Homo sapiens: one gene and its partner. The main gene of each other region encodes a partner of the protein of the gene in region 2 in a complex. Each region holds a gene or a part of one and is shown on either strand. Other genes may lie near its edges. The genes, in order: CFTR and YWHAQ. A codon is read from its position in the direction of its gene.

What was found.
Region 1: the proteins of YWHAQ (region 2) and CFTR are in contact, whole or in part, in a crystal structure (PDB 7QI1), measured with the Homo sapiens proteins. Residues at the interface, in NP_006817.1 of Homo sapiens: Asn38, Arg41, Asn42, Ser45, Val46, Lys49, Arg56, Arg60, Glu113, Phe117, Lys120, Arg127, Tyr128, Glu131, His164, Pro165, Ile166, Gly169, Leu172, Asn173, Val176, Glu180, Ile217, Leu220, Asn224, Leu227 (codon at 2,071), Trp228 (codon at 2,068); in NP_000483.3 of Homo sapiens: Arg764, Arg765, Arg766, Gln767, Ser768, Val769, Leu770, Asn771, Leu772, Met773, Thr774.

Annotation. Positions count from the first base shown.
Region 1 is NC_000007.14:117,608,881-117,616,196, forward strand, and holds part of CFTR (cystic fibrosis transmembrane conductance regulator), read left to right. Parts: intron 1-1,638; coding exon 1,639-1,789; intron 1,790-2,700; coding exon 2,701-2,928; intron 2,929-5,732; coding exon 5,733-5,833; intron 5,834-7,316. UniProt on the Homo sapiens protein: Epithelial ion channel that plays an important role in the regulation of epithelial ion and water transport and fluid homeostasis. Mediates the transport of chloride ions across the cell membrane.
Region 2 is NC_000002.12:9,583,275-9,586,121, forward strand, and holds the end of YWHAQ (14-3-3 protein theta), read right to left. Parts: intron 2,072-2,847; coding exon 2,012-2,071; 3' UTR 693-2,011; downstream 1-692. UniProt on the Homo sapiens protein: Adapter protein implicated in the regulation of a large spectrum of both general and specialized signaling pathways. Binds to a large number of partners, usually by recognition of a phosphoserine or phosphothreonine motif.

The DNA of each region.
Region 1 (7,316 bases), on a different chromosome or scaffold from region 2:
TATTTTTCTCTTTTTAAAATTTGAATTTTATTGTGGCAAGTCCACTTAACATGAGATTTACCCTCTTAACAGATTTTTATGTGTAAAATACAATATTGTTCACCATGGGTAAATGTTGCACAGCAGATCTCTGGAACTTATTCATTTTGCACTACTGAAATTTTATACCTGTTGATTAGTATCTCCCCATTTCCCTCTCTCCCCTGTCCTGTTACCCATGGTTCTGTTCTTTGCTTCTTTGAGTTTGAGTATTTTGATACCTCATGTAATCTTCATTCTATTTTCTAACTTTGACAATGTTCTGACAAATTTGCTTTCCGGATTGGAGCACTGTATAGTGAAAATTGAAAATCTTGGTTATTTTCTACAGATTCCCACTATTTTACCTTGAGCAGACACTTATCTTGAAGGGTCTCAGATTTGTCACTTGTAGAATGGGGAATATAAACCTGATAATGGTCCCTTTCAGTTCTAAAGTTATATCAGTTGAAAATACATGTGTCACTTATGGTAACGGGTAGAGAACTGGCTCACTGAACAGCATATGGATATTATAAAGTGGTTTTTTTTAATCCTTTCTGCAGACAGTTACTTTATACTTTATTCAAATGGATTATTGTGAAGTACATGTTAGCGGACTTTGTACCTTTTAAAAATGTATGTATTTGGTGTAATGTAGAAATATAGAAATTTATTAAGTATGATTTATTTCAATGTTAAGCATGAGAAAATATGCTCCGAAAGGTTAGATAGCTTGCCTAAATGACAAGCTTGTATTTCAAGCAGAACTTTCTGAATCAAAAGACTCCAAGACGAATGCCCAGCTTTCAAAAACTGTCTAACCAAAATAAATCCTAAGATTCACCTTCATACTAAAATTATTTAAAAATAGTTTATTTTAAATTAATATTCACTTAAAATGTATTTATCATGCAATACTTTAAAGTGTCTGGGAAATGAAAATATCCAAAGATCAAAGAACACCATGTTTTCAAACTTCAAAAATGTTATCAGTGACCTAAACAATTTTTAAAATTTTCATAGAGCCTATGAAAAATGTACTTGCAAATGGCTACTTTCTGACTAGGAATAGAATGGGGAGAGTATTTAGTCCAACAATGATAGACTGGATTAAGAAAATGTGGCACATATACACCATGGAACACTATGCAGCCATAAAAAATGATGAGTTCATGTCCTTTGTAGGGACATGGATGAAATTGGAAAACATCATTCTCAGTAAACTATCGCAAGAACAAAAAACCAAACACCGCATATTCTCACTCATAGGTGGGAATTGAACAATGAGATCACATGGACACAGGAAGGGGAATATCACACTCTGGGGACTGTTGTGGGGTGGGGGGAGGGGGGAGGGATAGCACTGGGAGATATACCTAATGCTAGATGACGAGTTAGTGGGTGCAGTGCACCAGCATGGCACATGTATACATATGTAACTAACCTGCACAATGTGCACATGTACCCTAAAACTTAAAGTATAATAAAAAAAATAAAAAAAAGTTTGAGGTGTTTAAAGTATGCAAAAAAAAAAAAAGAAATAAATCACTGACACACTTTGTCCACTTTGCAATGTGAAAATGTTTACTCACCAACATGTTTTCTTTGATCTTACAGTTGTTATTAATTGTGATTGGAGCTATAGCAGTTGTCGCAGTTTTACAACCCTACATCTTTGTTGCAACAGTGCCAGTGATAGTGGCTTTTATTATGTTGAGAGCATATTTCCTCCAAACCTCACAGCAACTCAAACAACTGGAATCTGAAGGTATGACAGTGAATGTGCGATACTCATCTTGTAAAAAAGCTATAAGAGCTATTTGAGATTCTTTATTGTTAATCTACTTAAAAAAAATTCTGCTTTTAAACTTTTACATCATATAACAATAATTTTTTTCTACATGCATGTGTATATAAAAGGAAACTATATTACAAAGTACACATGGATTTTTTTTCTTAATTAATGACCATGTGACTTCATTTTGGTTTTAAAATAGGTATATAGAATCTTACCACAGTTGGTGTACAGGACATTCATTTATAATAAACTTATATCAGTCAAATTAAACAAGGATAGTGCTGCTATTACTAAAGGTTTCTCTGGGTTCCCAAATGATACTTGACCAAATTTGTCCCTTTGGCTTGTTGTCTTCAGACACCCTTTCTTCATGTGTTGGAGCTGCCATTTCGTGTGCCCCCAAACTCTACTTGAGCTGTTAGGGAATCACATTTTGCAGTGACAGCCTTAGTGTGGGTGCATTTTCAGGCAATACTTTTTCAGTATATTTCTGCTTTGTAGATTATTAGCTAAATCAAGTCACATAAACTTCCTTAATTTAGATACTTGAAAAAATTGTCTTAAAAGAAAATTTTTTTAGTAAGAATTAATTTAGAATTAGCCAGAAAACTCCCAGTGGTAGCCAAGAAAGAGGAATAAATATTGGTGGTAATTTTTTAAGTTCCCATCTCTGGTAGCCAAGTAAAAAAAGAGGGTAACTCATTAATAAAATAACAAATCATATCTATTCAAAGAATGGCACCAGTGTGAAAAAAAGCTTTTTAACCAATGACATTTGTGATATGATTATTCTAATTTAGTCTTTTTCAGGTACAAGATATTATGAAATTACATTTTGTGTTTATGTTATTTGCAATGTTTTCTATGGAAATATTTCACAGGCAGGAGTCCAATTTTCACTCATCTTGTTACAAGCTTAAAAGGACTATGGACACTTCGTGCCTTCGGACGGCAGCCTTACTTTGAAACTCTGTTCCACAAAGCTCTGAATTTACATACTGCCAACTGGTTCTTGTACCTGTCAACACTGCGCTGGTTCCAAATGAGAATAGAAATGATTTTTGTCATCTTCTTCATTGCTGTTACCTTCATTTCCATTTTAACAACAGGTACTATGAACTCATTAACTTTAGCTAAGCATTTAAGTAAAAAATTTTCAATGAATAAAATGCTGCATTCTATAGGTTATCAATTTTTGATATCTTTAGAGTTTAGTAATTAACAAATTTGTTGGTTTATTATTGAACAAGTGATTTCTTTGAATTTCCATTGTTTTATTGTTAAACAAATAATTTCCTTGAAATCGGATATATATATATATATGTATATATATATATATATATATATATATATACATATATATATATAGTATTATCCCTGTTTTCACAGTTTTAAAAACCGATGCACACAGATTGTCAGATAGCAATTCTGTGATTGAAGGGGAAATATGTCACCTCTTCATACTCATATTGGTGAAGGGTCCTAGCTTCAAAATTAATAGATTCCTAAAGAGGGGAAATGAAACATCCGCATTTACACACACACACACACACACACACACAGAGTTCCTCTTGTCGGTAAGTTTTGTTTTTTTTAAATCTCTACTAGATAAAATTTGTTATCTAATTGTGAGTTTTACACAAAGAAAAACTGTCACAGAAAAGAAAGACAGTGTCACATTTTTCAAAAGAAAAAGAAGAAAAGAAAGTGCCATGTTTTTCAAATACAAATGTTCTGGATTGATTTTAGGATCTTTAGTGAAAAACAAAGTATTTCATAATAAGTAAAATAAAAATCTATGTAGGTAAATTTGTTTCTCTAATTTAAGAATTTGAATTTCTGAGTATTTATGATAAGTGTTGAAATAACTTCTTATATGTGACAGTGAATACTGGCAGAGCAAATGCCAAATCAATGCCAAATCTGTAGGATCATTTGATTGTAGGAACAGAATTCTACTCAAACCGAAAGCAGGCATTTGCTGGAGTTACAGAAAGGCCTCATGGAACACCGAGAAGGTGGTGCCATTCGACTCTTAAAGAAGCTGCAACAGGCACAAGAGAGTCAGCTGCAGCTCTTCTTCTTGAGTCTATATCTGTCCTGGGTCCATTCCTTTTTGTGGTTGCTTCATTCCTTTCTCTCTCTGAAGACTGGTTTTTCTGGTCTACCAGGGCTATGCCACATTGACTTTATGTAGTGTCTCCATTCTGGCCTCCTGAATTTACAGGAGAGTTCCTCTGTACAAACTCAAAGTCCTGGAGAGAACAGAAAACAGCTTCCTTTTGGCTCAGGGGTCCAACTGCAGTCTACTCTGCTGCTATGAGGATAGTGGGTTCACCACCTTTGTTGTTCTCTCAGCTAGGGCAGTGGGAAATGACTCTATGAAAGGAATATACATGGGCAGGCAAATGTACTAATCCTCATCAGTACTGTAATTTTAAGCAACTTTAAAAAATTCTTTTAAGTTATTTGAAAATAAGATCAAAGAAGGCTGAATTACATAAATGAAGATTTGTTAACAATTAATTCAAACCAATATAACACATGCTATAACATGGTTGAGTGTGATTGAGTCTTGATTTATTAGGGGCAATAATCAAAACATTTAACAATCATTATAGTACAGAACTTACCAATCAAATCAGATGCTCAGCCGGAGTGGATGTTGGCCACCCAGCTATTATTATCCCTGGCTCAATTGGTCTTCAGCTGTGTTAACTTGCAAACATTAATTAACTATCTAAGCCCCTCATTTTCCTCAAGTGTAAATAGACACAATAATATTACCTATTCCATAGGTGTGGGGTGAATAGTAAATGTAATAATTTGTCCAAAACACTTAGTATAGTGCCTGGTCCATGGTAAATACTAAATAAATGTTATCTGACTTATTATTAAAATTTTATCTTCTCAGCTTAACCTTCAGAACAGTAATATATTGGGGTCTAGATAAATCTTGCCTATATGAAAATAATTTAATACTACATGCAGATATATGCTGTGTATATTATGCCTTCTGTTAGAGGAATTGCAGAAACAAAAATTTCAATTAATAATAAGATGAATTATTTCTCCCAATTGTAGAATCTTTTGACAATTTTATCATGCATTACAGATGTAAGAACTCTTGATTGGGACTTGATAGTCTAACTTTATAATAATTTAAGAACATTCCTCTTAGAGAATTTCTATGGCCATAATACTGAACACATGAATTTTAATTAGCTGTCCTCTTTAGCCCTAAAAAAAAAATTACTGTAATTTAACACTTAAGTGTTGTTCTTCCCAGGTACAGTAATCTTTTTTTTTTTTTTTTTTTTTTTTTGCATAGAGGGTAATCTTTTCTCTTTCCAAATGGCAGAACTGTTAGTTTTCTGACTGTCCGGTGAAATTCTAAGTCCACTTACTTCCCAATAGCATGCAATTAGCAAAGGTCCTCCTTGCAAAGGCACAGAACACACCTAAACATCTTGCAGATGCTGTTTGGACACTCTTCCCCTGCTTTTGGTCTCTTTGTAAAGCAGCTCATCTGGATACAGGATCTCTTTTCCCCATTGCCCATTCTAATATATGTTACCGTTATTACTTATAGAATAATAGTAGAAGAGACAAATATGGTACCTACCCATTACCAACAACACCTCCAATACCAGTAACATTTTTTAAAAAGGGCAACACTTTCCTAATATTCAATCGCTCTTTGATTTAAAATCCTGGTTGAATACTTACTATATGCAGAGCATTATTCTATTAGTAGATGCTGTGATGAACTGAGATTTAAAAATTGTTAAAATTAGCATAAAATTGAAATGTAAATTTAATGTGATATGTGCCCTAGGAGAAGTGTGAATAAAGTCGTTCACAGAAGAGAGAAATAACATGAGGTTCATTTACGTCTTTTGTGCATCTATAGGAGAAGGAGAAGGAAGAGTTGGTATTATCCTGACTTTAGCCATGAATATCATGAGTACATTGCAGTGGGCTGTAAACTCCAGCATAGATGTGGATAGCTTGGTAAGTCTTATCATCTTTTTAACTTTTATGAAAAAAATTCAGACAAGTAACAAAGTATGAGTAATAGCATGAGGAAGAACTATATACCGTATATTGAGCTTAAGAAATAAAACATTACAGATAAATTGAGGGTCACTGTGTATCTGTCATTAAATCCTTATCTCTTCTTTCCTTCTCATAGATAGCCACTATGAAGATCTAATACTGCAGTGAGCATTCTTTCACCTGTTTCCTTATTCAGGATTTTCTAGGAGAAATACCTAGGGGTTGTATTGCTGGGTCATAGGATTCACCCATGCTTAACTGAGTGGTGCCAAATTGTCCTCAAGTCTGTTGTACTGATATATATCCCCATCAAGAGAGTACAAGAATTCTCATAGCTATGTATCTTCAACAACACTTGGTGTCTGGTAGATGTGAAGTGATTACTAAAAATATAGGGAAGCTGCATACATAATTATTGGCTTTTGCTGTTCTCTTACATTAATTTCTTATTCATGTTGATTACTCATTTGTCACCTAGTTTTTTCTTCCTTAATTAAATTGTAGGAATTTATGAATTATGGATTGATCATCAGCTCTATACATTTCAAACATAATCCCTCAGTCAGTGGCTTGGCTTATAGAGTCTTTTGATGAAAAGAAGCTTTTAAGTTTAATAAAGTTCAATTTATTGTCTTTTCCTTTATGTTTTGTGCTTTTGGTATCTTGATTAAGAACTCCTTCCTTATATTGGGTTCTCAAATTTAGCAGCATAACATTTTCATACTATTATTTAAATTTTTTTCACATTATTTAGTGATAGCACCTTTCTTATTCCTAAAGTGTTTATCATTGCCTTCTGTCTTTCTGCTTGATAAATATTGCCACACATTTGTATACTTTATTAGTGTGTACAAAGACCACATTTTAGTTGTGTTATTTCTCTTGTTTTGGTTTTCTAGAATGCAGAGCCATTAATATTATAGTAATGCTTATGTGCTAATACCATATCAGGGGCACAAATCCCATTGCAGCGGGACTGAGAAATTAAAGGAAATGATGCACATTTACTCATTTTTGTTTAAAAAATCAAATGCATATTTTTCAATCAGACTATATGGTTGGTCTGGATAGCTTCATCATTGAATTTTTAAAGTATTTTTGTACTACTGTATTTAAAATTATTCATTCACCACTGCTTTTGTAGATGGTTTAGAAACCCAAGTTAGGAATGACTGTGCAACACTATTATTATACTCTTTTTAAAATTATACTTTTTGCTTAAGTTTCTTTCCTTGTTCTCTGAGACAGTGTTCATGTTCCCAAACCACACACATTTATTCAGCTATAAAATTTGTATGATCAACTCCTGTCAGAACAAACATCATTATAAAAAATATCTCCAGGAAAAAGAAAACCCTTTTAATGCTCTCTTCTGGTTCATGTGTCTTCTTATTTTCTTTAAGCATTTTCATAACCCATTGAGCTGTAATTTAATTGG
Region 2 (2,847 bases):
AAAAAAAAAAAAAAAAAAAAAAAAGGGAAAAAAGAAAAGAAAAGAAAACAACTATAAATGAAGCCTTGTTTCATATTCACATTTTAGGATCAAGAAGAATCCTACATAGCTATTTTTTCAGATTATCTTCTGACTTAAAAATCAGTTCTCAAGTCATTCAGTCTCAGTTATTTTACTAATCTGAGATTGGTTAGTAAAATAATAGCTATTGTGATACTATAAAACCAAAATTATTTTGAACTCACTAATAGTAAGATTGAATGTTTACAAACAGAAGCATAGAGTCCCCAACTTAATTTTTTGACTTTACAATGGTGTGGAAATGACAGGCATTCAGTAGAAAGCATACTTCAAGTACCTATACAATCAATGGTTTTCACTTTCAGTGTTCAACAAATTACCTGAGAGATCCAACGCTTTAGTATAAAGTAGGCTTCATGTTCTTTGATTTTGCCCAACTGTAGGGCTAAGTGTTCTGGGCACATTTAATGTAGGATAGGTTAAGCTATAATGTTCATTAGGTCAGGTGTATTCAGTGCAGTTTTGACTTCGTATTTTCAACTTGCAATGGGTTTATCAGGGTGTAGCCCCATTTTAAGTTGAGGAGTATCTGTGTCTGAACTCTTACATTCCTTTTGAATATCCACTGAAGCACAATTCTAATAACAGCCAAGGCACTCACAATCACATAATTAACTTTGCTAGTTTTAAAATGTCCACTTTATTCCATATAACACTTAACCAGATATCATTTACATCTGAGGAAGAGATGGCCCATGAGACTGATCTATAGTAAAACACTCTAAGAAATGCAGTCCAATTTTATACACTTCCAGGCATCCCTAGACAAGTGTGTCACAATGCACAATGTGGAAATATAGGTATCACTACTACATTTTACATAAAAGGGAAGTATCAATAAACTTTAGAAAGTAGTAAATTCACCTGTCCCTTAAAATATGGGTATGCAATTGTTACAAAGCCATAGTAAATGGTTTATAAAATGTACTTTTATTTTATGTTACTCTGCTGTTACATAGGGCATAACATTTTCACAAGGCTTTTTTGGGACTACAGTCAATGATTAGCAACACACAATAGTGGTCCAACTCTCTAAATAACAATCACTAGACAAACTGGACACCCTCTCACATGTGCACAAATCTGCATGGAAAAGTACTAAAGTTTTAGACTTGGACTTGTGTACTTTAATTTATTTCCCCTTTCTAGTGTATTAAGAAATGACATGCACTTTAATTTGCCAAAAGCAATGCTTGTATTCTGGCAGCAACATGCTACTTCTATCACATAGTAAAGTGAATACCAGAACTACAAAGGCAGGAGGTGTAAGTGAATTTTTATTGGGAGGGGAGGTTGGCAACTTAAACAGCAGCAAATAAAGAGTGAATAAGGAAACTCCCTGTTGCCACAGATACACAAGACCTCCGTATGTGATACAGGAGCCATTTCAATTTGTGACCCCTAGACAGAGATGGCAAGTGCTTTTCCATTCAATCTAATACTTCCGGATTCCTACTAAAAAGGAATACATTAAGAGCATGGAAAAGTTGCTTACTGAAAGGAAACCCCCGAAGAGTAAGGGAGGGAATGTAGAAATTAAGAAGTTATGTGGAATACTCTTTAAATTGTAATTAACTACATTTTCTTATTTTCACAGTAATACAAAACACAGTCACTTGCAGAACTGGTTCAGATTACTTAAATACCAGATACATTTTTAGTCCTCTACATAAGTGTTTGGGAGTTACTTATGTTTATATGAAATGAAGCTATTAATACTTTTCTACAGCAGTACTGCACACCAGGAAGGCCAAGACAAACACAAATCAAGGAATGAAGTTTTCCCAAAGCTGCAGTGTGAAAAGACTATAAACAGTTGATTCCATACACATGAATGGGTTTCTTTGCTATAGGAAATCCAAGTGGAATAAGGAATGGAGATGTGTAAAAAGGTTTCTTGAAGGAAAGAAGGATGACACCCTGTATGGATTTAGTTTTCAGCCCCTTCTGCCGCATCACATTCTTCTCCTGCACTGTCTGATGTCCAAAGCTAGAAAAAGAAGAATCATATTAAGTTACTATTTCTAGATTAGGCAATTACACTAAGTAGTATTGTTATATCAAAATTAACTACAAGAGTAGTAAATTCCTCAAACAATGGAGATCTTGACTAAGACTGAAGTTCTCTCTCAAAACCCCAAAGACCATCACCTTCCCAAAGTACATCCTTGCAGACCTTTCACTATGCACTTACAAAATGACATACATACATACATACATATACCACTGGAGCATGGTTTTATAGCTTCCTTTTTATTTAAAAAGCATTTGGCCAGGCACAGTGGCTCACGCCTGTAATCTCAGCACGTAGGGAGGCCAAGATGAGAAGATCGCATGAGGCCAGGAGTTCAACAGCCTGGACAACATAGCAAGATCCCACGTCTACAAAAAATTTCAAAAACAAAATTGGCCAGGTACGGGGTGGTGTGTGCCTACAGTCCTAACTACTCAGGAGGCTGAGGCAGGAGGACTGCTTGAATCCAGGAGGTTGAGGCTGGAGTGATCCATGATTATGACACTGCACTCCAGCCTAGGCAACAGGGTGAGATCCTTTCTCAAAAAAAAAAAAAAAAAAGAGAAACTTTTTTAAAAAGGCACTCTACTTTCAGAATAAGCAAAGTGATAGTCTCTATTCCCAGCAGCCCAATGCTCTTCTTGAAAGCACTACTGCATTATTATTACAGACTAATAAAGCAAAACATTTTCACAGGGAGGAAAAAGCCACAATCATGGTTAACAATTTTCAAGTGTGTGAAGGGCTAAACT